Linked DNA regions of Homo sapiens. The protein of the gene in region 1 binds, or shares a complex with, the protein of each later gene. Each region holds a gene or a part of one and is shown in the gene's direction. Other genes may lie near its edges.

Evidence for each region.
Region 2: the proteins of PLEKHA4 (region 1) and KLHL12 are in contact, whole or in part, in a crystal structure (PDB 8OIO), measured with the Homo sapiens proteins. Residues at the interface, in NP_065955.2 of Homo sapiens: Pro177, Gly178, Gly179, Pro180; in NP_067646.1 of Homo sapiens: Phe289, Arg320, Glu417, Tyr434, Ile439, Phe481, His486, Cys511, Tyr512, Tyr528, Leu533, Cys558.

What each region holds. Positions count from the first base shown.
Region 1 is NC_000019.10:48,846,140-48,858,679, reverse strand, and holds part of PLEKHA4 (pleckstrin homology domain-containing family A member 4), read left to right. Parts: intron 1-1,183; coding exon 1,184-1,258; intron 1,259-4,415; coding exon 4,416-4,463; intron 4,464-4,592; coding exon 4,593-4,673; intron 4,674-4,848; coding exon 4,849-4,998; intron 4,999-6,353; coding exon 6,354-6,452; intron 6,453-10,639; coding exon 10,640-10,780; intron 10,781-12,540. UniProt on the Homo sapiens protein: Binds specifically to phosphatidylinositol 3-phosphate (PtdIns3P), but not to other phosphoinositides.
Region 2 is NC_000001.11:202,915,752-202,928,291, reverse strand, and holds the start of KLHL12 (kelch-like protein 12), read left to right. Parts: upstream 1-1,057; 5' UTR 1,058-1,203; intron 1,204-3,084; coding exon of another isoform or gene 3,085-3,129; coding exon 3,130-3,324; intron 3,325-8,383; coding exon 8,384-8,537; intron 8,538-9,903; coding exon 9,904-10,121; intron 10,122-12,540. UniProt on the Homo sapiens protein: Substrate-specific adapter of a BCR (BTB-CUL3-RBX1) E3 ubiquitin ligase complex that acts as a negative regulator of Wnt signaling pathway and ER-Golgi transport.

The sequences.
Region 1 (12,540 bases):
TGGGCTGTCTTTCTAGGCTGGTCTTCGGCCATTGCTTTTTTTTTTTTTTTTTGAGACTGAGGTCTTGCTCTGTCGCCAAGGTTAGAGGGCAGTGGCACGATCTCGGCTCACTACAACCTCTGTCTCCCGGGTTCAAGCGATTCTCCTGCCTCAGCCTCCCGAGTAGCTAGGATTACAGGCACCTGCCACCACGTCCGGCTGATTTTTATATTTTTGGTAGAGATGAGGTTTCACCATGTTGACCAAGCTGGTCTCGAACTCCTGACCAGCTGACAGGTGATCTGCCCATCTCAGCCTCCCAAAGTGCTGGGATTACAGGCGTGAGCCACCGCGCCTGGCCCAGCCATTGCTCTTTAAGCATCATGGGGATTGTAGTCCTGGATACTCTGTGCCAAGACAGTGCGGTGAGAGGTTTGCATCTCCCTTGTGTCCCCAGTTCACCTTGCAAGTTGGTTGCCTGCTGTTTTGTCTGAGCATCATGGGACGGTAGCTCAGAATATCCACAGCTGACTGCAAGTCTGAGAATGAGAGTAGCAAATTCCATCATCTTGTGGGGCTGTTTTGCCAGGCTGGTGCATTTATTATCACCCTCTGTGTCCCCACAGTGGCACACAGCTGGAGAGCAGGTAGTTGAGGAAGTTGAGAGGGCCCAGTTCTGAACCTCAAAATATCTCCTAAAGCACTTCAATTATGGACATGCCCACTCTACTATTTGTCACTAAGACATGCCAGTTTCTTTTTTTTTTTAATTATTATTATTATTTTTTTATTGATCATTCTTGGGTGTTTCTCGCAGAGGGGGATTTGGCAGGGTCATAGGACAATAGTGGAGGGAAGGTCAGCAGATAAACAAGTGAACAAAGGTCTCTGGTTTTCCTAGGCAGAGGACCCTGCGGCCTTCCGCAGTGTTTGTGTCCCTGGGTACTTGAGATTAGGGAGTGGTGATGACTCTTAACGAGCATGCTGCCTTCAAGCATCTGTTTAACAAAGCACATCTTGCACTGCCCTTAATCCATTTAACCCTGAGTGGACACAGCACATGTTTCAGAGAGCACAGGGTTGGGGGTAAGGTCATAGATCAACAGGATCCCAAGGCAGAAGAATTTTTCTTAGTACAGAACAAAATGAAAAGTCTCCCAGACATGCCAGTTTCTAAACATCTCCATTTCAACGTTCCTCCCAGGCACACTCTGGCTCCCCCACTTATCTCCAGCTCCCCCCGCGGCCCCCTGGGACCCGGGCCTCCATGGTTTTATTGGTAGGTATCCTGGAGTACCCTAAATCTACCGGAGCCCCCTCCCTTCCTTTCTTCTCTATGAGGAATGTCATCTCTTGGCCTAGGGTGCCTAGAGAACTGTAGATATTTCAAAGACCCTGGGTAGGTATTAGATTCATGTGGTGGCTGTAACAAAGCGCATGGCCGAAAACAACAGAAATGGATTATCTTGCGGTTCTGGAGGCCAGAGGCCTGGAGTCAAGGGATTGGCAGGGCTATACTTCCACTGAAGGTTCTAAGGAGGAGCTTTTATTGACTCTCTCTTAGCTTCTGGTGGTTGCCAGCAATTCCTGAGGTTCTGTGGTTTTTTTTATGGCCACATCTTTGCCTCCATCATCCCATGATGATCTTCCTTTGTGTTTTTGTTGCTGTCCATCTCCTCCTATTAGGACACCCCATGACATCGTCGTAACTTAACTTAAATCCGCAAAAACCTCTTTCTTTCTTTCTTTCTCTTTCTTTTTCTTTTCTTTTCTTTCTTTCTTTCTTTTTTTTTTTTTTTTTTGAGACGGGGTCTCTCTCTGTCGCCCAGGCTGGAGTGCAGTGGTGCGATCTCGGCTCACTGCAAGCTCTGCCTCCCGGGTTCATGCCATTCTCCTGCCTCAGCCTCCTGAATAGCTGGGACTACAGGCGCCCGCCACCACGCCCGGCTAATTTTTTTGTATTTTTTTCTTTGTTTTTTTCTTGAGACAGAGTCTCGCTCTGTCGCCCAGGCTGGATTGCAGTGGCGCGATCTCGGTTCACTGCAACCTTCGCCTCCCTGGTTCAAGCAATTCTCCTGCCTCAACCTCCTGAATAGCTGGGATTACAGGCACGTGCCACCATGCCTGGATAATTTTTGTATTTTTAGTAGAGACGGGGTTTCACCATGTTGGTCAGGCTGGTCTCGAACTCCTAACCTCGTGATCCTCCCGCCTCGGCCTCCCAAAGTGCTGGGATTACAGGCGTAAGCCACTGCGCCTGGCCCAACTTTTTTGTATTTTTAGTAGAGATGGGGTTTCACTGTGTTAGCCAGGATGGTCTCGATCTCCTGACCTTGTGATCTGCCCGCCTCGGCCTCCCAAAGTGCTGGGATTACAGGCGTGAGCCACCGCGACTGGCCTTCCTTCCTTTCTTTCTTTCTTTCCCCCTTCCCCTTCCCCTTCCCCTCCCCTCCTCGTTCTTTCCTTTCCTTTCCTTTTTCTCTCTCTTTCTTTCTTTCCTTCTTTCCTTCCTTTTTCTTTTTTTTTTTTGAGAAGGAGTTTCACTCTTGTTGCCCAGGCTGGAGTGCAATGGCGTGATCTCGGCTCACCGCAACCTCCCCTCCTGGGTTCAAGCGATTCTCCTGCCTCAGCTGCCCGAGTAGCTGGGATTACAGGCACCCACCACCACGCCCTGCTAATTTTGTATTTTTAGTAAAGACAGGGTTTCTCCATGTTGGTCAGGCTGGTCTTGAACTCCCGACCTCAGGTGATCTGCCTGCCTCGGCCTCCCAAAATGCTGGGATTACAGGCATGAGCCACTGCGCCTGGCCACCTAGCTAACTTTTTCTACTTTTTGTAGAGACAGGGTTTTGCCATGTTACCCAGGCTGTTTTTTGTTTTTTTTTAAATTAAAAAAAATTATTTATTTTCTTGAGACAGAGTCTCACTCTGTCACCCAGGCTGGAGTGCAGTGGTGCAATCATGGCTCACTGCAGCCTCAGTCTCCTGGGCCCAAGCGATACTCCCACCTCAGCCTCCCTAGTAGCTGAGACTACAGGCATGTACCACCATGCTCAGCTTATTTTATTTATTTATTTATTTATTTATTTATTTATTTGAGACGAAATCTCACTCTGTCACCCGGGCTGGAGTGCAATGGCACGATCTCGGCTCGCTGCAACCTCTGCCTCCCGGGTTCAAGTGATTCTTCTTCCTCAGCCTCCCAAGTAGCTGGGATTACAGGCGCCCGTCACTACGCCTGGCTAAGTTTTGTATTTTTAGTAGAGACAGGGTATCACCATGTTGGTCAGGCTGGTCTCGAACTCCTGACCTCAGGTGATCCACCCGCCTCGGCCTCCCAAAGTGTTGGGATTACAGGCATGAGCCACCGCACCCGGCCCTATTTTTTTATTTTTATTTTTTTTGCAGACACAAGGTCTCCCTATGTTGCCCAGACTGGTCTTTAACTCCTGGGCTCAAGTGATCTTCCCTCTTTGGCCTCCCAAAGCTTTGGGATTACAGGAGTGAGTCACTGTGCCCTGCACTTTGTTTTATTCTTAGTCATAAATAAAATGTCTAAATTTCTCCATTAATTATAATATTTGCCATGGCTGCTTGATCAAGAGCCCATTATTGATCTTTCTGAAGCCAAGAATGTGGAAGTTGGTCTACTGAAATTTGCTAATGCTTAGAAGGAAGCTGATAAGGAGAGGGGTCGCTAGGCTTGGTGGTTCATGCCTGTAATCCCAGGACTTCAGGAGGCCAAGGCAGGAGGATCATTTGAGATCAGGAGTTCAAGACTGGTCTGGGTGACATAGTGAGACCCCAGCCCTGAAAACAAACAAACAAACAACCTTAGCTGGCACCGGTGGCTGGCATCTGTTGTCCCACCTACTTGGGAGGCTGAGGTGGGAGGATCCTTTGAGCCTAAGAGTTCAAGGCTGCAGTGAGCCATGATCATGCCACTGCACCCCAGCCTGGGTGACAGACCTTGACTCAAAAAAAAAAAAAAAAAAAAAAAAAAAGGCCAGGCATGATATGATGGTGCATGCCTATAATCCCAGCACTTTGGGAGGCCGAGGCAGGAGGATTGCTTGAGCCCAGGAGTTTGAGATCAGCCTGGGCAACATGGCAAAACCCCATCGCTACCAAAACCAACAGCAACAAAAATTTTAAAACTACAAAAATTAGCCGGGCATGATGTGTGCGCCTGTGGTCCCAGCTACTCAGGAGACTGAAGTGGGAGGATTGCTTGAGCCCAGGAGGTTGAGCCTGCAGCGAACCATGATCGCACGACTGCACACCAGCTTGGGTGACAGAGCAAGACCCTATCTCTAAATAAATAAATAAATAAATAGTGCAGTACCTATCAGTAGAGACAGGGCGTGGCTCAGCACTGAGTTACAAGAATGACCAGCCTGTCCCCTTTGACCCCTGACTTTTTTCCTTCTCTTCAGCCGGGTCCTCCCCTGGAGTCAACTTTCCACCAAAGCTTGGAGACAGATGTAAGTTGTCACTGATCTAATCCTTGCTGAGTTCCCAGAGTTGGGGAGAGAATGTTCTAGATGATGGGAGGAGCGGCAGGGGAAGAGCCAGATCTGGACCATCAGTAGCTCCCGCTCTCCTTTCTCCAGACGCTGCTGACCAAGTTGTGCGGGCAGGACCGGCTTCTGCGGAGGCTGCAGGAGGAGATAGACCAGAAGCAGGAGGAGAAGGTGCGGGGCCCTGGGCCAAGGACAGGGCGCCTGGCCTCTCTGCCTGCCCTGAGCCCTTCCTGAATGCGGAAGTCAGGATGCTGACTGGACGTCCAGGACGTGAAAGGACATCTTTTCTTTCTTCTTGGGGCTAGGCATGGCTTCTGAAGTCTAACCACCTTCTGTCTTGGTGCAGGAGCAACTAGAAGCAGCTCTGGAGTTGACCCGGCAACAGCTGGGCCAAGCCACCAGGGAGGCTGGGGCTCCCGGGAGGGCCTGGGGTCGCCAGCGCCTCTTGCAGGACCGGCTGGTCAGTGTGAGGGCCACCCTCTGTCACTTGACTCAGGTGAGCACCTGGGAAGGGGCCTGCCCTCCTAGGAGGCCCCAGGACTATGCAAGTCGTTACGAAGGGGACCTGCCCCAGAGGGCTCATAGGAAGATCGTTCTTCAGAAGTCTACACTCCAAATTTTATTATTTTTTCTCTCTCCTCATTGTCTTGTAACCACTCTAATTTTTTTTTTTTTGGGGGGGACAGAGTCTTGCTCTGTCGCCCAGGCTGGAGTACAGTGGTGCCATCTCAGCTCACTGCAACCTCAGCCTCCTGAGTAACTGGGATTACAGGCATGTGCCACCACACCTGGCTAATTTTTGTATTTTTAGTAGAGATGGGGTTTTGCCATGTTGGCCAGGCTGGTCTCGAACTCCTAACCTCAGGTGATCAGCCTGCCTCAGCCTCCCAAAGTGCTGGGATTACAGGCATGAGCCACTGCGCCCGGCCTTAAGTAACTCTGAGAATTATTATATGTGATACGTGAAAATGAGTGAATGAATGAATGAATGAATGAATGAATATTTAACACTTAAGGTACTTGGTACTTGGTAAAGCAATACTTAAGTGTCAGCTATAATTATTATCTGTAAAATGGAGACAATAATAGTAACTACCTCATAGGAATTAAATGAGAGTTGAGAACAATGCCTAGCACATGATCAGTGCCCAATAAGTGTTAGCTGATATTATCATTGTTATTGTTGGTATTGGCAAGGAAGTTTCTGCTGCCCCAGGGTGAGTGGGTGCTGTGGTTATTTTTTTTGAGACGGATTCTTGCTCTGTTGCTCAGGCTGGAGTGCAGCGCCTGGATCCAGGCTCACTGCAACTTCTGTCTCCCTGGTTCAAGTGATCCTCCTGCCTCAGCCTCCCGAATACCTGGGATTACAGGCCCTCGCCACCATTCCTGGCTAATTTTTGTATTTTTAGTAGGGACGGGGTTTCACCATGTTGGCCAGGGTGGTCTCGAACTCCTGACCTCAAGTGATCCGCCCGCCTTGGCCTCCCAAATAGCTGGGATTAAAGGCCTGAACCACCGTGTCTGGCTGGGTGCTGTGGTCTTTTAACTGTCTAATGAAATTCATTAGATCTGTAGACTCTGCTACCTAGGAGAGAGCAGAAGTAATCCTGGGGATTCAGGGAATGCTGTTATTTGTCTACACTAGCAGTGTACTGGAATTGCAGGTTCCATACAGACTTTGGGGTTCCCAGTAGTCCAAGCAAAGAGGCCCATGGGAATTGTAGTCCATACGCCTGCAGGGCTCCAGGGACCAAACTCCCTTATCTCCTCCTTAGCTGACAAATGATGGGGTGGGGAAGGATCTGGTGGGAGAGGGACCTAACCTATGTCTCCCCCTTTATGCAACCTGAGGAGCGAGAGAGGGTTTGGGACACGTACAGTGGCCTGGAGCAGGAGCTGGGCACCTTAAGAGAGACGCTGGAGTACCTGCTGCACCTTGGTTCTCCCCAGGTAAATCGCTGCTTGGAGACCCCAAGACCCACCCCCAACTCCAAGTTCTGCCTGGAAATCCTTTTAGCATTTAATCTTCGCCCACAGAATCGAGGCCCCGCCCAGTTGACCCTTAGCCTCCTTTCTGTCCTTTCAATCTAAGCCCCTTATTTTAGTTAAGACCATGCCCTTTGGGGTTTTTTTTTAAATTCTCTCATTAAAATTTTAATTAAGCTTCAATTTTGAATGCCGTTTTCTCGAGCTGTTATCTAATTTCTGCTGTAAAGTTGTTTATTTGTTTGTTTTTAAGACAGTCTCACTCTGTCGCCCAGGCTGGAGTGCAGTAGCGCAATCTTGGCGCACTGCAACCTCTGCCTTCCAGGTTCAAGTGATTCTCCCACCTCAGCCTCCCAAGTAGCTAGGATTTCAGGCACATGCCACCATGCCCAGCTACTTTTTATATTTTTAGTAGAGACATGTTGGTCAGGCTGGTCTTGAACTCCTGACCTCAAGTGATCTGCCTGCCACGGCCTCCCAAAGTGCTGGGATTGCAAGCATGAGCCACTGCGCCAGACCTAATTTCTGCTGTAAAGTTGGCTATAATTTTACAACATTTTTTTTTGAGGGGGAGGGGGACAGAGTTTTACTCTTGTTGCCCGGGCTGGAGTGCAATGGCACGATCTCAGCTCACCACAACCTCTGCCTCCCGGGCTCAAGCGATTCACCCACCTCAGCCTCCTGAGTAACTGGGATTACAGGTGCCCGCCACCACGCCCAGCTAATTTTGTATTTTTAGTAGAGACGGGGTTTCTCTATGTTGGTCAGGCTGGTCTTGAATTCCCGACCTCAGGTGATCTGCCTGCCTCGGCCTCCCAAAGTGCTGGGATTACAGGCGTGAGCCACTGCGCCCGGCCTACAACATTCTTTTTAAAAAATGTATTGTGGGTACATAGCAGATGAATATATTTATGAAGTGCATAAGATATTTTGGTACAGGCATGCAATGTATAATAATCCCATCATGGAAAATGGGGTGTCCATCCCCTCAAGCATTTATCTTTTGTGTTACAAACAATCCATTATACTCTTTTATTTTTTATTTTTATTTTTGAGACAGTCTCGCTTTATTGCCCAGGCTGGAGTGCAGTAGCACAATCTTGGCTCACTGCAACCTCCGCCTCCCAGGTTCAAACGATTCTCCTCCCTCAGCCTCCCAAGTACCTGGGATTACAGATGACCACCACCATGCCCGGTTAATTTTTCTATTTTCGGTAGAGAGGGGGGTTTCACCATGTTGGTCAGGCTGGTCTCGAACTCCTGACCTCAGGTGATCCACCCACCTCGGCCTCCCAAAGTTCTGGGATTACCGGTGTGAGCCACTGTGCCTGGCCTACTCTTTTATTTTTATTTTATTTATTTTATTATATTTTTTGAGATAGAGTCTCGTTCTGTTGCCCAGACCGGAGTGCAATGGTGCAATCTCGGTTCACCGCAACATCCGCCTCCCAGGTTCAAGCAATTCTCCTGCCTCAGCCTCCCGAGTAGCTGGGATTACAGGCATGCACCACCATGTCTGGCTAATTTTGTAGTTTTATGAGAGACGGGGTTTCTCCATGTTGGTCCGGCTGGTCTTGAACTCCTGACCTCAGGTGATCCACCCGCCTCAGCTTCCCAAAGTGCTGAGATTACAGGCGTGAGCCACCGCACACAGCCCTTCTATTTTTTATTTTCTTTTTTTGTGTGTGTGAGACATAGTCTTGCTCTGTCGCCAGGCTGGAGTGCAGTGGCACAATCTCGACTCACTGCAACCTCCACCTCCCAGGCTCAAGCAATTCTCCTGCCGCAGCTTCCCCAGTAGCTGAGACTACAGGTGTGTGCCACCATGCCCAGCTAATTTTTGTATTTTTAGTAGAGATGGGGTTTCACCATGTTGGCCAGGATGGTCTAGATCTCTTGACCTCATGATCCACCCGCCTCGGCCTCCCAAAGTGCTGGGATTACAGGCGTGAGTCACGGCGCCTGGCCGCCCTCTTATTTATTTATGAGATGGAGTCTTGCTCTGTTGCCCAGGCTGGAGTGCAGTGGTGTGATCTCGGCTCACTGCAACCTCTGCCTCCCGGGTTCAAGTGATTCTCCTGCCTCAGCCTCTAGCTGGGACTACAGGCGTGTGCCACCACGCCTGGCTAATTTTTGTATTTTTAGTAGAGACGGGGTTTCACCATGTTGATTAGGGTGGTCTTGAACTCCTGACCTTCTGATCCGCCTGCCTCGGCCTCCCAAAGTGCTGGGATTATAGGCATGAGCTACTGCGCCCGGCCAATGCCTTTCGTTTTAATACCTACTTCAGATCCAGAGCTGCTCTCTCCCCTGGTTCTAAATCTCTCCTCTTGTTGAAGCCATGCTCTCACCAGCAAAACTCCAACCCTCAGCCTTTTTTCCATCTTGCAAGTTCATCTCTTGCATCCTGCATCCTGACTTTTGCTGTTAAATTTATCCTCTGGAGTTCCAGTTCTGAACCCATTCCTTTAGTGCAAGCTCTGCTCCTAAAATATAAACCTCATTGCTTAGCCTCAGACCTGCTTTTTCACTCTAAATCTAGCCATCAAGTTCTAAATCATGTATCTTTAAAAACATTGACACGGCCGGGCGTGTTGGCTCACGCCTGTAGTCCCAGCACTTTGGGAGGCCAAGGCAGGTGGATCACTTGAGGTCAGGAGTTGGAGACCAATCTGACGAACATGGTGAAACCCTGTCTCTACTAAAAATAGAAAAATTTGCTGGGTGTGCTGGTGCACGCCTGTAGTCCCAGCTACTCAGGAGGCTGAGGCAGGAGAATCGCTTGAACCCGGGAGGCGGAGGTTGCAGTGAGCCGAGATCGTGACACTGCACTCCAGCCTGGGTGATAGGGAGAGACTCCATCTTAAAAAACAACAACAACAACCCCAAAAAACAAAAAACCATTGATGCCTAGTTTTAAATGCATCTTCTCACTCTAAGCTGCTCCCACTAGATCTACAATCCAGACTTGGCAAGAACAGACCCATGCCAGCTGCAGTGGCTCACACCTGTAATCCCAGCACTTTAGGAGGATGAGGCAGGTGGATCACCTGAGCCCAGGAGTTTGAGGCTAGCCTGGGCAACATGGTGAAACTCTGTCTCTACTAAAAATAAAAGTGAAAAAATTAGCTGGGCCTGGTTGTGCACGCCTGTGGTCCCAGTTACTCAGGAGGCTGAGGTGGAAGGATCGCTTAAGCCCAAGAGTTCGAGGATGCAGTGAGCTATGATCAAGCCATTGCACGCCAGCCTGGGTGACAGAGGGAGGGACTGTCTCCAAAAACAAACAAAAAGAACAGACTCTCATATTCGTATGGTCACCTATTTATAATAGATGTAACACAGTAAAACAACATAGAAAGAAAAGACAGTTTTTTCTTTTTCTTTTTTTTTTTTTTGAGACAGTGTCTCGCTCTGTTGCACAGGCTGGAGTGCAGTGGCACGATCTCAGCTCACTGCAACCTCCACCTCCTGGGTTCAAGCAATTCTCCTGCCTCAGCCTCCCGAGTGGCTGGGATCACAGGCATGCACCACCACCCCCGGCTAATTTTTTTTTGTATTTTTAGTAGACACGAGGGTTCACCATGTTGGCCAGGCTGGTCTTGAACTTCTGACCTCTGGTGATCCACCCGCCTCGGCTTCCCAAAATGCTGGGATTACAGGTGTGAGCCACCACGCCTGGCCAAAAGACAGTTTTTTTTTTTTTTTTGAGACGGAGTCTCGCTCTGTCGCCCAGGCTGGAGTGCAGTGGCGGGATCTCGGCTCACTGCAAGCTCCGCCTCCCGGGTTCACGCCATTCTCCTGCCTCAGCCTCCCAAGTAGCTGGGACTACAGGTGCCCGCCACTACGCCCGGCTAATTTTTTGTATTTTTAGTAGAGACGGGGTTTCACCGTTTTAGCCGGGATGGTCTCGATCTCCTGACCTCGTGATCCGCCCGCCTCGGCCTCCCAAAGTGCTGGGATTACAGGCGTGAGCCACCGCGCCCAGCCAAGACAGTTTTTTTCAATTCAACTGGATAACCACATGGGAAAAAAAATAAATCCCAACTCCATAAATATAGCCCAGCTGATTTCAGACCTTTGCAGGGGCCTATTAGCTGAAACCCTCCTGCGTTTTCCCACCTTTAAGTAACAAATTCCTTTCCTCCCTGCAGGACAGAGTGTCTGCTCAGCAGCAGCTGTGGATGGTGGAAGACACGCTGGCAGGTCTGGGTGGCCCCCAGAAACCGCCCCCACACACTGAGCCTGACTCCCCATCTCCCGTGCTCCAGGGCGAGGAGTCCTCAGAGAGGGAGGTAAGACGCACATAATTCCTCCCCACCCCAAGCTTCATGTCCCACCTGTCCTTGACTCAGTCTATTCCCCACCCACCTCTTTAATTCTTCCTTGATCAGCTAACCCACCTGGTACAAGTGTCCTAACCTCTGGAAGCCTTTGTTTTCTTTTTTTTCGGGGGTTTTTTTGAGACGTAGTCTCACTCTGTCATCCAGGCTGGAGTCCAGTGGTGCAATCTTGGCTCACTGCAACCTCCACCTCCTGGGTTCAAGTGGTTCTCCTGCCTCAGCCTCCGAAGTAGCTGTGATTACAGGTGCCCACAACCAAGCCTGGCTAAGTTTTGTATTTTTAGTAGAAACGGAGTTTCACCTTGTTGGCCAGGCTGGTCATGTACTCCTGGCCTTGAGTAATCCGCCTGCCTCGGCCTCCCAAAGTGTTGGGATTACAGGCGTGAGCCACCTCGCCCAACCAGGATTTTTTTTTTAAGATGGGATCTCATTCTGTCGCCCAGGCTGGACTGCAGTGGTGTGATCATGGCTCACTGCAGCCTCGAATTCTTGGGCTCAAGCAATCCTCCTGCTTCAGCTTCCTGAGTAGCTGGGACCGCAGGCTCGTGCCATCATGCCTGGCTAATTTTTGGTTGTTTGTTTATTGTGGAGATGGAACCTCACTTTGCTGCCAAGTCTGGTCTTAAACTCCTGGCTTAAAATGATCCTCCAGTCTCAGTATTCCAAAACGCCAGGATTACAGGAGTGAGGCACCGCACCCAGCCCTAATATGATTATATATATAATGCACTTAGACACCAGGCACTGTTCTAAGTGCCACATATATATGGACTCAATCCTAATATCAAAAAGTAAAATGTTAATGAGCCAGGCACAGTGGTGCACACCTGTAATCCCAGCTACTTGGGAGACTGAGGCAGGAGAATCGCTTGAACCAGGGAGGCAGAGGTTGCAGTAAGCTGAACCAAGATTGCACCACTGTACTCCAGCCTGGCTGAAAGAGCGAGACTGTGTCTCAAATAAAATAAAATATGGCTCAGAGAGGTAAAGCAGCTTGCCGAAGGTCACACAGCTAATAAATGGCACAGTTGGGATTTGAAGCCAGGACATCTGGCTCCTGGTTTACAGTTTTTTTGTTTTTTTGGAGACAGGGTCTTGCTCTGTCACCCAGGCTGGAGTGCAGTGGTGCCATCACAGCTCACTGGAACCTCCATCTCTGGGGCTTAAGTGATTCTCTCACCTCAGCTTCCCAAGTAGCTAGGACTACAGGTGTCTGCCACCATGCCCGGCGAATTCTTTAACTTTTTTGTAGAGACGGGGTCTCCCTATGTTGCCTAGGCTGGTCTTGACCTCCTGGTCTCAAGTGATCCTCCCATCTCGGCCTCCTAAAATGCTGGGATTACAGACGTGAACCCACTGTGCCCAGCCTAAAACGTTTGTTTTGTTTTGCTTTGTTTTTTGAGATGGAGTCTCTCTCTGTTGCTCAGGCTGGAGTGCAAGTGGCTCGATCTTGGCTCACTGCAAGCTCTACCTCCCGGGTTCACACCATTCTCCTGCCTCAGCCTCCCGAGTAGCTGGGACTACAGGCACCTGCCACCACGCCCGGCTAATTTTTTTTTTGTATTTTTAGTAGAGACGGGGTTTCACCGTTTTAGCCAGGATGGTCTCCTGACCTTGTGATCCGCCTGCCTCGGCCTCCCAAAGTACTGGGATTACAGGCATGAGCCACCGCGCCCAGCCTTAAAAAGTTTTTAAGGGAAGGGGTCTTGCTA
Region 2 (12,540 bases), on another chromosome or scaffold:
TTCTTTTTTTTTTTTTTGAGACGGAGTCTTGCTCTGTCGCCCAGGCTGGAGTACAGTGGCGCGATCTCAGCTCACTGCAACCTCCGCCTCCCGGGTTCACGCCATTCTCCTGCCTCAGCTTCCCGAGTAGCTGGGACTACTGGCGCCCGCCACTACGCCCAGCCAATTTTTTTGTATTTTTAGTGGAGACGGGGTTTCACCGTGTTAGCCAGAATCGATCTCCTGACCTCGTGATCCACCCGTCTCGGCCTCCCAAAGTGCTGGGATTACAGGCGTGAGCCACCTCGCCTGGCCTTTTTTTTTTTTTTTTAAGAGACAGAGTCTCAGTCGGTCGCCCAGCCCGGAGTGCAATGGCGCGATCTCGGCTCAGCAACCTCCGCCTCCCAGGTTCTAGCGATTCTCCTGCATTAGCCTCCTGAGTAGTTGGGATTACAGGCGCGTGCCACAACGCCCGGCTAATTTTTTTGTATTTTCAGTAGAGATAGGGTTTCACCATGTTGGCCAGGCTGGTCTCGAACTCCTGACCTCAAGTAATACACCCGCCTCGGCCTCCCAAAGTGCCGGGATTACAGGCGTGAGCCACCACGCCTGGACATTTTTTTTTTTTTTTTTTTTTTACAGGGTCTCATTCTGTGGCCCAGGCTGGAGTGCAGTGGCGATCCTGGCTCACTGCAACCTCTGCTGCCTGGCTCAAGTGATCCTCCTGTCAGCCTCTCGAGTAGCTGGGACTACAGGCGCGGTGCGGGCTAATTTTTTTTTTTTTTTTTTTTTTGTAGAAACGGGGTTTTGCCGTGATCCCCAGGCGGGTCTGGAACTCCGGAGCTCAGGTAATTCGCTCGCCTCGGCCTGCCAAAGTGCCGGGATTATAGGCGTGAGCCACCATTCCCTGCCCACCCGACCTTTTTGTAATTCGGCTTCCTAGCAGCGTACAGAAGCCCCGCGCTAGGGTACAGACAGGTCACGTGACACCACCTCCTCACGTGACGCAGACTCTGGAGCGGGGGGAGGGCGGTGCTCCAGCTGCATTGCGTCATCACGTCGCGCGGCCGCAGGGGCCAGACCCGGACGGCTCCAGAGCCTCCAGAGCCTCCGGGTCTGGGCGGCGCTTCGGCTCCTCCCGAGCCGCCTGCTAGCCCCGCGCCGCACTCCATCCCCACAGGCTGGGGACGGGCCCGGTGCGGCTGTGTGGGTTCGGGAGCGGAGGTGAGTTGCGCGGAAGTGATGGCAGTCAGCCCTTCCCTTCCTGTCCGTCAACTCCGGGTTATGGCCCTACCCCCCATCCTTGGTCTCCCTGCAAGGCGGAATGGGAGACATGCCCAACAGAGGAGGAAGGCTGGCAGTGGGGTGGGGCATCTGGCCTCGGTCACCCTCTCAACTCTCCCCCTGAACTGCCCCTCTCCGATACCTCCACCTGGCGGTGGCGGCCATATGCCTGGTGGTATTAGGAGGAAGGACTTCGTTTCCTTCTCTAGAATTTAGTCTTTCCCGAGTTTACTACCCATTCCCTGCCCCGAATCTCCCGAAGTGGAATCCCTCCATTCAGATGTTAACGAAAGTTCTAGAAAATAGGTCACTTCAGAAGGGTGAGGATGAAGGATATGCTGAGACTTGGAGTGTTGAGGCAGGAATCCCCTAGAAGGAAGACCACTCTGCACCGGGGTACTGTCATTTTGACACGGAAACGATAAAAGACCCCCCGGGCTGTCTTCATAGTAAATGGACATTTGTTCTAGACCTTTTTACACCCCTAGAGTTGCAACTAAGTTGACTTAAGTCTTTTTGAAAAACATATGCTTTGATGAATCACCCGCTTTTCTGTAAAATGGGTCTTGCAGAGTTGTTGGAGGAATTATCTATAGTGCTTATAGAGTAAAATGCCAACTACAAACAGAAGTAGATGAGAATTTAGGATCTCATTTTTCCTGTTGAAAGATTAATTGTGACTTGTGGACTTTTGGAGACCACAGTTTGATTTCCTTCCCCCCGGATCATTTCAGAAAGTTTTGGATTCCAATATCGATTCTTTAACAGTAATGGACATTCACAGATGTAGAGTAGGAATACCCTCTTGTTGAAGAGCTTCAATATCTTAAGCAAGTGTAAGTCCATCGATAACTTGCGTGGTTTCCATTATTCAGTGTAGGTAATGGGTCCTCAATTGAAGTTTCTTTTTTTTTTTTTTTTTTTGAGACAGAGTCTCGCTCTGTTGCCCAGGCTGGAGTGCAGTGGTGTGATCTCGGCTCACTGCAACCTCCACCTCCTGGGTTCAAGTGATTCTCGGGCCTCAGCCTTCTTGGTAGCTAGGATTATAGGCGCGCATCACCACGCCTGGCTATTTTTTGTATTTTTAGTAGAGACTAGGTTTCACCATGTTGGCCAGGCTGCTCTCAAACTCCTGACCTCAACTGATCACCCACCTCAGCCTCCTAAAGTGCTGGGATTACAGGAGTGAGCTGTTGGGCCCGGCCTGAAGTTTCATTTTAAGAAGAAATCCAGATATGTTTGGAAGTCATCAGACATATCATTTGGATACTTCTTTAGAAAAAAGTTTATTTTTACTGAGTGGCCTTTCTTGCTCTAAGTTGAAGTTGAATACACACTTTTTCTTACATTAAATTCTAAACATTTATTGTGCAACTTCTAGGATAGAAAGCATACATATAAAGCAGGATCCTCTTTTTATGTATGCTCTAAATACTTATCTACTTAAGGACATTAAATAGTAATAATATAACACCTTTAAGAAATTTTATATTTTCGGTTTATCATTTGAGACAAGAACCTTGTCAAGATTTACAAGACATATATTGTTTATCTCTACTTACATTTCAGCATTGATCATATTAAATGTCAAGTGGTAGGGACACTCCGTGATAGAGGAATTCAGAGGAAGAAGAGAGAGCTTTTACATGGACTAGATAGTGGCTAGTGGTTGGTGGTGATGCCAGGCATAGGAGTGCCCTCAACTTGTGTATGTTTGGGTCTGAGGAAGCCTCTTAGGTTCTTAATTTGTAAAGCTAATTAAATATGTTCAGTTGCCCTAGTTCTTTGAATATGCTCATTGTTTTTTTTTCCCTCTTGTAGTTGCAGAATCCAAGGACCCATTTTGTTCTTTCTCCGCACTGCTTTATGGGAGGCATTATGGCCCCCAAAGACATAATGACAAATACTCATGCTAAATCCATCCTCAATTCAATGAACTCCCTCAGGAAGAGCAATACCCTCTGTGATGTGACATTGAGAGTAGAGCAGAAAGACTTCCCTGCCCATCGGATTGTGCTGGCTGCCTGTAGTGATTACTTCTGTGCCATGTTCACTAGTGAGGTAAGTGGTAAATTAGCCCCACACAAATGAAACCCGTGGAACTCTAGTTGTCTAATTTCACTGAATAAAATAGTGGAAGTTTGATATAATTTTGAATTTTTACAGTGTGATGTTTTGGCAGATTCTGGATAAGATCTACCACTTAGATGACTATGCCTTAGTTTCCTCATCTTTAAGTTAGGGATAATAGTAATATGTAACACATGGTTATTAAGGTTGTTGTGAAGATTATTTTATGAAATAACATAGGAAGTGCTTAGAATAGTGTAATATGTAGTAAAACACACATGTCAGCTATTGGATTTTACTATTTCTTAAATTTGTCTTCCAATTTTTCTCCTTTTTTTGTTTTTAATTTTATTTATTTATTTGTAGAGACAGGGTCTCACTATGTTGCCCACGCTGGTCTTGAACTCCTGGGCTCAAGCAATCCTCCTGCCTTGGCCTCCCAGAGTGGCCACACCTGGCATTACAGGTGTGAGCCACGGCATCCAGCCTTTTTTCCTTCTAAAGTTTAAAAATTTTTAAGTGAATACCAGAGGGATAAGGAGGAAGGAAGGAGAGAGGAGTAGGATTCAAACCACATCCCACTCCTCCTAACAATATGTGAAGAAAATCAGTGTAAATTTTAGGATAACTTCAAATGAAAGGAAGAAGAGTTTTTAATGAATAGCTGTACAGGCGTTGAGTGTATAACCTGAGAAAGGATGTTAACTCATAAGCACTTAACAAAGGGAATTAGGAAAAGGTTGGCTTGAGAGAATACAGGTAGTGCTCACAAAGTATTAAGAAACACTACTTAGTAATTGCCTGACAAAATACTTGAAATGTATAGTAAGGCTGCTGAATATATTGTGTTGAATATTCTTAGAAAGCTGAACAGAAAATAACATTGCAAATCTTTGTTTTTCAAGATCCCAAGTCTCATTTTAAGAGCAGATTTAAATAAATTATCTTGATTTATTTTTTCAAAGCTCAGTTGTGGGTGCATCACTGTTTATTATATAATTTACACTTACATGTATGCCTGAAATATTTCATTATGAAAACACTGTTTTAAAAGTCTTTTTAAGCACAAGTTTTTTGTTTGTTTTTTGTTTTTTTTTTAGTTAGTTCTATCATCTTAGTGTAGATATTGCTGCTGAATCAGAATGGGAGAGGCGTATTCTGTGATGGTAATAACTACCTTTTATGGGCCAGGTACTGTGCTAGTAATTGTTGTGCATATCTGACTCACCCTAGGGGTAGGTATTACCATCTCATTTTACAAATGAAGGAATAGGGTTTCAGATATTAAATCACTTGCCCAAAGTCCCATGGCTTGTAAGTGCTAGAGGTGGGATTTCATTTTATATTTTCCAACTCTAAAGCCCAAACAGTTTGTAACTCTTGTGCCGCCTTAGCCTCCGAAGTATGAATTTTATATACTACAATCTAATTTTAAAACTGGTATAGTTAAAAATACTATGAGCCAATGCTCAGTCACATGGCTAGTAGGGAAAACAGGAACCTGACAGGTCATTCCAACTAATTCAGGCTAATTTTTAAATAAACTTGTGTGATATACCAAGGCAGATCCCTGTCCTATACTGTTCTCCATGAGATATACCCAAGATCATCAGAAGCATTTGGAATTTAACTGGGTAAAGAGAGTGTCACCCAGCAGCTGCTGAGCAAGAAATGAACTAGAACGGCTGATTGCTAATTATATGTTGTGCATCCTGTTTTTTGTCAGCTTGAAAATAGTGTCTTTACTCTTTTGTTATTTGGAAATGAATTCTTTTTTTCTCATCAGTGATGATTTCTTTCTTTAAAAACTGACATCAGGCAAGGAAATGCTAGATGGTTTTGTCTTTATTTTTGAGAGTAATTGTTCAAAGGAGAGAGTCCAGAGACCTGGATTCTAGGCTTAGTTCTCTTAGCAATTCTGTATAAACCCTGGGAACCATCTAACTTCACTGGGTTGATCTGTAAAATAAAGTAGTTGAACTAGATGGTTTCCTTGTTCTCTTCAGCTATGAAATGCTCCTCAAATGTCATCTGATTGAAAGATCACAAAGACTGAGGCAGGAGGACCTGGGTTTTGTCTCTCTCTCTCTCTCTTTTTTTTTTCCTGAAATACTTTAATAAGAATGATATCTGTCTCTTACTAGCTAAGTGACTGGTTAAGTCTTGGATCTTCAGCTGGGCGTGGTGGCTCACGCCTGTAATCCCAGCACTTTGGGAGGCCGAAGCAGGTGGATCACGAGGTCAGGAGATCAAGACCATCCTGGCTAACACGGTGAAACCCCGTCTCTACTAAAAATACAAAAAATTAGCCGTGCGTGGTGGCGGGCGCCTGTAGTCCCAGCCACTCGGGAGGCTGAGGCAGGAGAATGGCGTGAACCCGGGAGGCGGAGCTGGCAGTGAGCCCAGATCACGCCACTGCACTCCAGCCTGGGTGACAGAGCGAGACTCTGTCTCAAAAAAAAAAAAAAGTCTTGGATCTTCTTTGATCTTTAGACCCTTTATCGCTCTCTCTTTTTTTTTTTTTCCTTGACGCCTGGCTAATTTTTTGTATTTTTAGTGGAGACGGGGTTTCACCATGTTAGCCAGGATGGTCTCGATATCCTGACCTTGTGATCCACCCACCTCGGCCTCCCAAAGTGCTGGGATTACAGGCTTGAGCCATGTGCCCGGCCCCCCTTTATCTCTTAGATAGTAATAATATCAGACCTAACTACCTTACCAGGTTGCTGTGAGAATCAGATGAAATAGTAGTAAATGAGAAGCATGCTGAAAAATTCTAAAGCAAAATATAACTGTAAAATGTATAATTGCTCTAAGTTCTTACATAGTGAAATTGTTTCCATATTTAAACTATTTGATGGAAATGTAGTTTATTGAATGAGAAATTTCTGGAATACATGTACTTACATATTTCAGTACCATAATTATTAAATGCATTTAATGTGTTGGGATAGTAATTGTTTATGAATATTAGTACTGTATTAAATGTTAATAAAACCTAATATGTTTTTTCAAAATAATGTGCTAGTGACTTTTTTAGTGTTAGGGATTGATTTTGTTCTTGGCTTTGGTAGAGAGTGCTTTTTGGTTATTCTCTGGCTGATGGAGAAATAAAAAACGTTAAAGCCATTTAGTTAATAATGGAGATGCACCAGAGTTTTTTAAGTAAAATGAATTTCTAAACTAAGATTAAGATCTAGTAAAATTTTCATAAGGTATTTTCAGATAGTTTCCTGTAAAATTGAAGATTTCTTCTCTTAGCTAAACAGTTTTCTATGATTATCTGGCCTCATCAATACTCATAGCTTCAAGAAGATATACTACTAACAATTTAGACTAAATATACTGCTAACAATTCAGTTAGTCTAACCCAATATTTTGAAAAAGTAACAAATAATTTATTTGTATTCAGATGATGTTACATAAGAAAGTCCCTTAGGATGACCTGCATGTTCTTTTTCGTCATTACTAAATGCAGTCTAAGGGCCGGGCATGGTGGCTCACGCCTGTAATCCCAGCATTTTGAGAGGCTGAGGTGGGCAGATCACTTGAGGTCAGGAGTTCAAGACCAGCCTGGCCAACATGGTGAAACCCCATCTCTACTAAAAACACAAAAATTAGCCAGGCATGGTGGCATGTGCCTGTAGTCCCAGCTACTCAGGCGGCTGAGGCAGGAGAATCGCTTGAACCTGGGAGGTGGAGCTTGAAGTGAGCCAAGATTACGCCACTGCACTCCAGCCTGGGCAACAGAGCAAGACTGTGTCAAAAAAAAAAAAAAAAATTAGCTGGTTGTAGTGGTGTACTCCTGTAATCCCAGCTACTTGGGAGGCTGAGGCACGAGAAACACTTGAACCTGGGAGGCAGAGGTTGCAGTGAGCTGAGATCACACCACTGCACTCCAGCCTGGGGAACAGAGCAAGACCCTATCTCAACAAAGGGGAAAAAAAAGTAGTCTAAGGACAGATGATAGGAACTAGGTAGTCCTGGAGAGACTGGAGTTATAACCCACAGGCTCCTCTACGAACATGAAATTTCTTTGAAATATTGTGTCTTATCTTAAAAGTTCACGGACCAGTGTTATGTTCATGGAACTTTTGCATTCTATTCTGTAAATACATCTGTATTTTAATATGAAATAGATTTTTAAAGTTATTCACTGGCAAAATTACTATTCCAGGAAGGTGTTACCTATTACTTATTCCTGGCGTATAGATAACTACCTACTTCATTTGGAAAGCTACAGATAATGTGCCATATTTGCTTTATTAAAATCCAACAAAATTGGCCGGGCGCGGTGGCTCACGCCTGTAATCCCAGCACTTTGGGAGGCTGAGGCAGGCGGATCACGAGGTGAGGAGATCGAGACCATCCTGGCTAACACGGTGAAACCCCGTCTCTACTAAAAGTACAAAAAATTAGCCGGGCGTGGTGGCGGGCGCCTGTAGTCCAAACTACTCGGGAGGCTGAGCCAGGAGAATGGCATGAACCCAGGAGGTGGAGCTTGCAGTGAGCCGAGATGGCACCACTGCACTCCAGCCTGGGAAACAGTGCAAGATTCCGTCTCAAAAAAAAAAAAAAAAAAAAAAAAATCCAACAAAATAGAGCATAATTTTATTTTTTTATTTTCTTTCTTTTTTATTTTTTTGAAATGGAGTCTCACTCTGGTGCCCAGGCTGGAGTGGAGTGGCACAATCTTGGCTCTCTGCAACCTTCGCCTCCTGGGTTGAAGCAATTCTCCTGCCTCAGCCTCCTGAGTAGCTGGGACTACAGGCATGTGCCACCATGCCCAACTAATTTTTGTATTTCTAGTGGAGACGGGGTTTCACTGTGTTGGCCAGGCTGGTCTTGAATTCCTGACCTCAGGTGATTTGCCTGCCTTAGCCTCTCAAAGTGCTGGGATTACAGGCATGAGCCACCACGCCTGGCCTGTAATTTTTAAAGATAAATGTTCAATTAATATTATTAACATCTCTAAGCTCTTAGATATGAGATTCTGCCTTTATCTTGTGGAATTATAACCATCATTCTTTTATACCTTTTGAATTTTCAGCTCTCAGAGAAGGGGAAACCTTATGTTGACATCCAAGGTTTGACTGCCTCTACCATGGAAATTTTATTGGACTTTGTGTACACAGAAACAGTACATGTGACAGTGGAGAATGTACAAGAACTGCTTCCTGCAGCCTGTCTGCTTCAGTTGAAAGGTACAGACATTAAAACTTGCTATTGTTTATGTCAAAATAGCCCTGGAAAGGTTGAAAATTAATAGTGTAAACTTAATCATGAACATTTTGGAGACAAACTATGGATGTTCATGTTTGCTGGCCATGGCTTTTGTCTCATTGAGCAATAAGAGATCAGATGTCAATAGCACTATAAAGGAACTTCTCCAGATATGAGTATTTGGCTCTATAAAAGAGAGCATTTGCACCTTTTCTGTTTTAAAAAAAAAATGGAGGAAGGAGAAATTATGTGTTTTCTTACATACATGTATGTAACACACCTATAAGGAAATATAATAAAAAAGTGATACTATACATAGCCTACATGGATACTCTTTATCTATCTGGCCATTAAGTGGTAGTATTTCATTAAGATACATGAAATTTAAATTGATGCACAAAATATTAAAGTATGATATTTTCACAGGATTACAGGTGGTTTGTTTTCCCTTACAATTCCCAGGTTTTTTGTTTTGTTTTTGAGACAGAGTCTCACTCTGTCACCCAGATTAGAGCACAGTGGTGCAATCACAGCTCACTGTATCCTTGAATTCTTGGGCTCAAGCAATTCTCACACCTCAGCCTCCTGAGTAGCTGGGACCACAGGTGCATGCCACCACACCCAGCTAATTAAAACAAAATTTTTTTGTGTGGAGATGAGTTCTCTCTATGTTGCTCAGGCTGGTCTCAAGCTCGTGGGCTCGAGTGATCCTCCCACCTTGCCTCCCAGAATGCTGGAATTATAGGCACGAGCCACCGTTCCTGGTCCCCAGTTTTTCTTTTTTAACATTCAGTTATGTTTTCAGTTTTTATATATACATAATTGACACACTTTTAGTTTTTAATACATGATTTAAACAGTGTGAAGCTTTTGCATTAGTGCATAGCCATAACATTAAAATACTCTGAACTTTTCAATTAGATAAATATGAGATTTGTTATTACTATCTTCTCCTTTTCTTTCACTCTAGTCTTTTAGTAAGTTTTCATGTAGAGTAGAAAATGGATACATTATGCTGAATTCGCAATTGGTTTTATAGTTTGATTCCCAAGAGTTTTATAGGCATTTTTGTTGAATTGTGCCAGGTCTCTGGATGTGATTCATCTTGCAATACTCATTTTAAAGATTAAGCAGAGACAGGTGTAAAGGTCTTGCTGAAAGTGGCACAGTACATAAGCCAGAAATAGAGTTTAAGTTCCTTAAGCATAGAATTTCTAATCTGTTTCTTAGGTGTTGAAACAAGGGTTCATCTGATAACATGTAGAGAAGATGCTGAGATACAAGAATATATCCTAGATCACACCTGTCCAACTATTCTAAAGTGTTTGCTGCCTGTGTCTGTCCTAGGTGTGAAACAAGCCTGCTGTGAGTTCTTAGAAAGTCAGTTGGACCCTTCTAATTGCCTGGGTATTAGGGATTTTGCTGAAACCCACAATTGTGTTGACCTGATGCAAGCAGCTGAGGTTTTTAGCCAGAAGCATTTTCCTGAAGTGGTACAGCATGAAGAGTTCATTCTTCTGAGTCAAGGAGAGGTGGAAAAGCTAATCAAGTGCGACGAAATTCAGGTACGGATTTGTCTTGATGTTATGGTTTCTTCAAGATTGGGCAATTACAAAACTTGCAAATAGGATGCAGTTACTTACCATCAGGGCTTCATAATTAAGTGTGCATTTTGGCTCAAAGATTTCATTAACCCCTCCTGTACCAAATTTATTTGCATTTTTATGGAGAGGGAGTTTGCCACTTTCTTCAATTAGATATATGATCCCAGTGGGTAAGAATCACTATTCAACAGAGTATAGAATAAGCAGAAATTGGAAGTAAAGTAGGTATCTGTAGACCACTTCTCTATTACCCGTTCACTCATTTCACAAACATTTATTGAGAATATCTACTATGTAGCACTTAACTATGCCAGGTGCTACAGATCCCCAAGTGGGTAAATATAGTTCTTGCTTTCAGAAAATTCACAACCTGCTAGTAGAGACAGAGATATAGACAAAAAAAATGTTATAAAGAGGATCATGAGAATAGTGAGCCTATACAAAGTAAGGACATTACATAGAAGAAAGAAGAATAAACCTTTGCTCAGGAGTGGATCAGAAATGAAGAGACAAAAGTTTGGAAGTGAGGATCTACAGAAGCAGGAGCCAAATCATAACTGTCTTGTGAGGATGCAGCGGTTGGAAGGGAGGGACACATGAACTGGATGTTAAAGGAATAGTAGGCCAGGTGCAGTGGCCTATGCCTGTAATCCCAGCACTTTGGGAGGCTGAGGCAGAACTGCTTGTGTCCAGGAGTTTGATACTAGCCTGGGCAACATGGCAAAACCCTGTCTCTACAAAAAAATAAAATTAGCCTGGCATGGTGGTGAGCACCTGTGGTCCCAGCTACTTGAGAGGCTGAGGTGGGAGGATCTCTGGAGCCTGGGAGTTTGAGGCTGCAGTGAGCCATGATCGCACCACTGCACTCTAGCCTAGGCAACAGAGGGAGACCCTGTCTCTTGCGGGGGAAGAAGGAATAATACTTCACCTACCAGGGGGATACTACCTGTGCCAGGCAGGCATTCAGTGACTTAACCTACACAGAAGAAAAGTCAATCCTAATTCTAAATCAGAGTACCAGTAGCAGAGTTTTATTGCATATAGGTTTGTAGTTAGGCTGAGAATTGGAGTGAGAAGTCCAATATAGTTATTAGATGTCTTTGAAGCCCATAGTATTGATCTCCAGTGGTCCAATTCTTTAATTTTTTTTTTTTTTCTTCTGAGATGGTCTCACTCTGTCACCCAGGCTGGAGTGCAGTGATGCAATTATGGCTCACTGCAGCCTGGATGTCTGAGCTCAAGCAGCTCTCCCACCTCATCCTCCTGTGTAGCTGGAACTGCACATCACCACACCGGGCTAATTTTTTAAAATTTTTGTTGAGATGGGGTCTCGCTGTGTTGCCCAGGCTGGTCTTGAACTGCTAGGCTCAAGCAATGCTAGGCTCAGGCAATACCATTTAAAGAAAGCCTCTAATATACTTCCATAAACTAAATGATTACTCTCTCCTGATTTATTTTGTTAAAACTAGGATATTTGTGTAATATAATAACAGGTCTTAAGTATACTTCTTCCAGGCTGGAGTGCAGTGGTGTGATCTCAGCTCACTGTAACCTTCACCTTCTGGGTTCAAGTGATTCTCCTGCCTCGGCCTCCCAGGTAGCTGGGACTACAGGCGCCCACCACTACACCAGCTAATTTTTGTATTTTTAGCAGAGACGGAGTTTCACTATTGTGGCCAGGCTGCTCTGGAACTCCTGACATCAGCCACTTCAGCCTCCTAAAATGCTGAGATTATAAGTGTGAGCCACGGCTCCTGGCCTTAAGTATATTTCTTATCAAATTTTAGCCAAGTGTTTCTTTACACCTTTCTCTAGTGACTGTTCTGAGGGAAAATGGATTAGAGCACATTGGTCACATTGGTTCCAACTGTAGAGGAATTATTTTCCAGCCTGACATACTGGGCTCTGTATCAGCCCAGAGAAGCTGCTGTTGCAAATGCTATTGAGTCAAGAATTTGCTAAAATCTTAGTTCTCAGCCTCTTAGTGTAGGACATTGTATCCTTGTGCTGAAGTGGCAGGCATAGCCAAAAAACATATTCATCAGACTTGGAAACTGGCAATTCACTAGAATATCTTGATTTTTCTTGATTTGTACACATATTGGAAAATACAATGAATAGAATGAGCACTACAGATTTGACGTTCACTACATATAATAGCTAATACTTATTCAGCATTTACTGTTGGTTCACTTACTAAATACTTGTTGAACACTTACTGTGTGCCCAGAACATTTCCATGTGCTGCAGATCAAATTATGAACAAAACAAAAATCCCTGTCCACTGGAGCTTCCATTCTAGTGGCACCATTCTTGGTATTTTTATCTCATTTAATTCTCACATCTTCATTTTTCACAGGAGGAAAGTGAAGATTGGAGT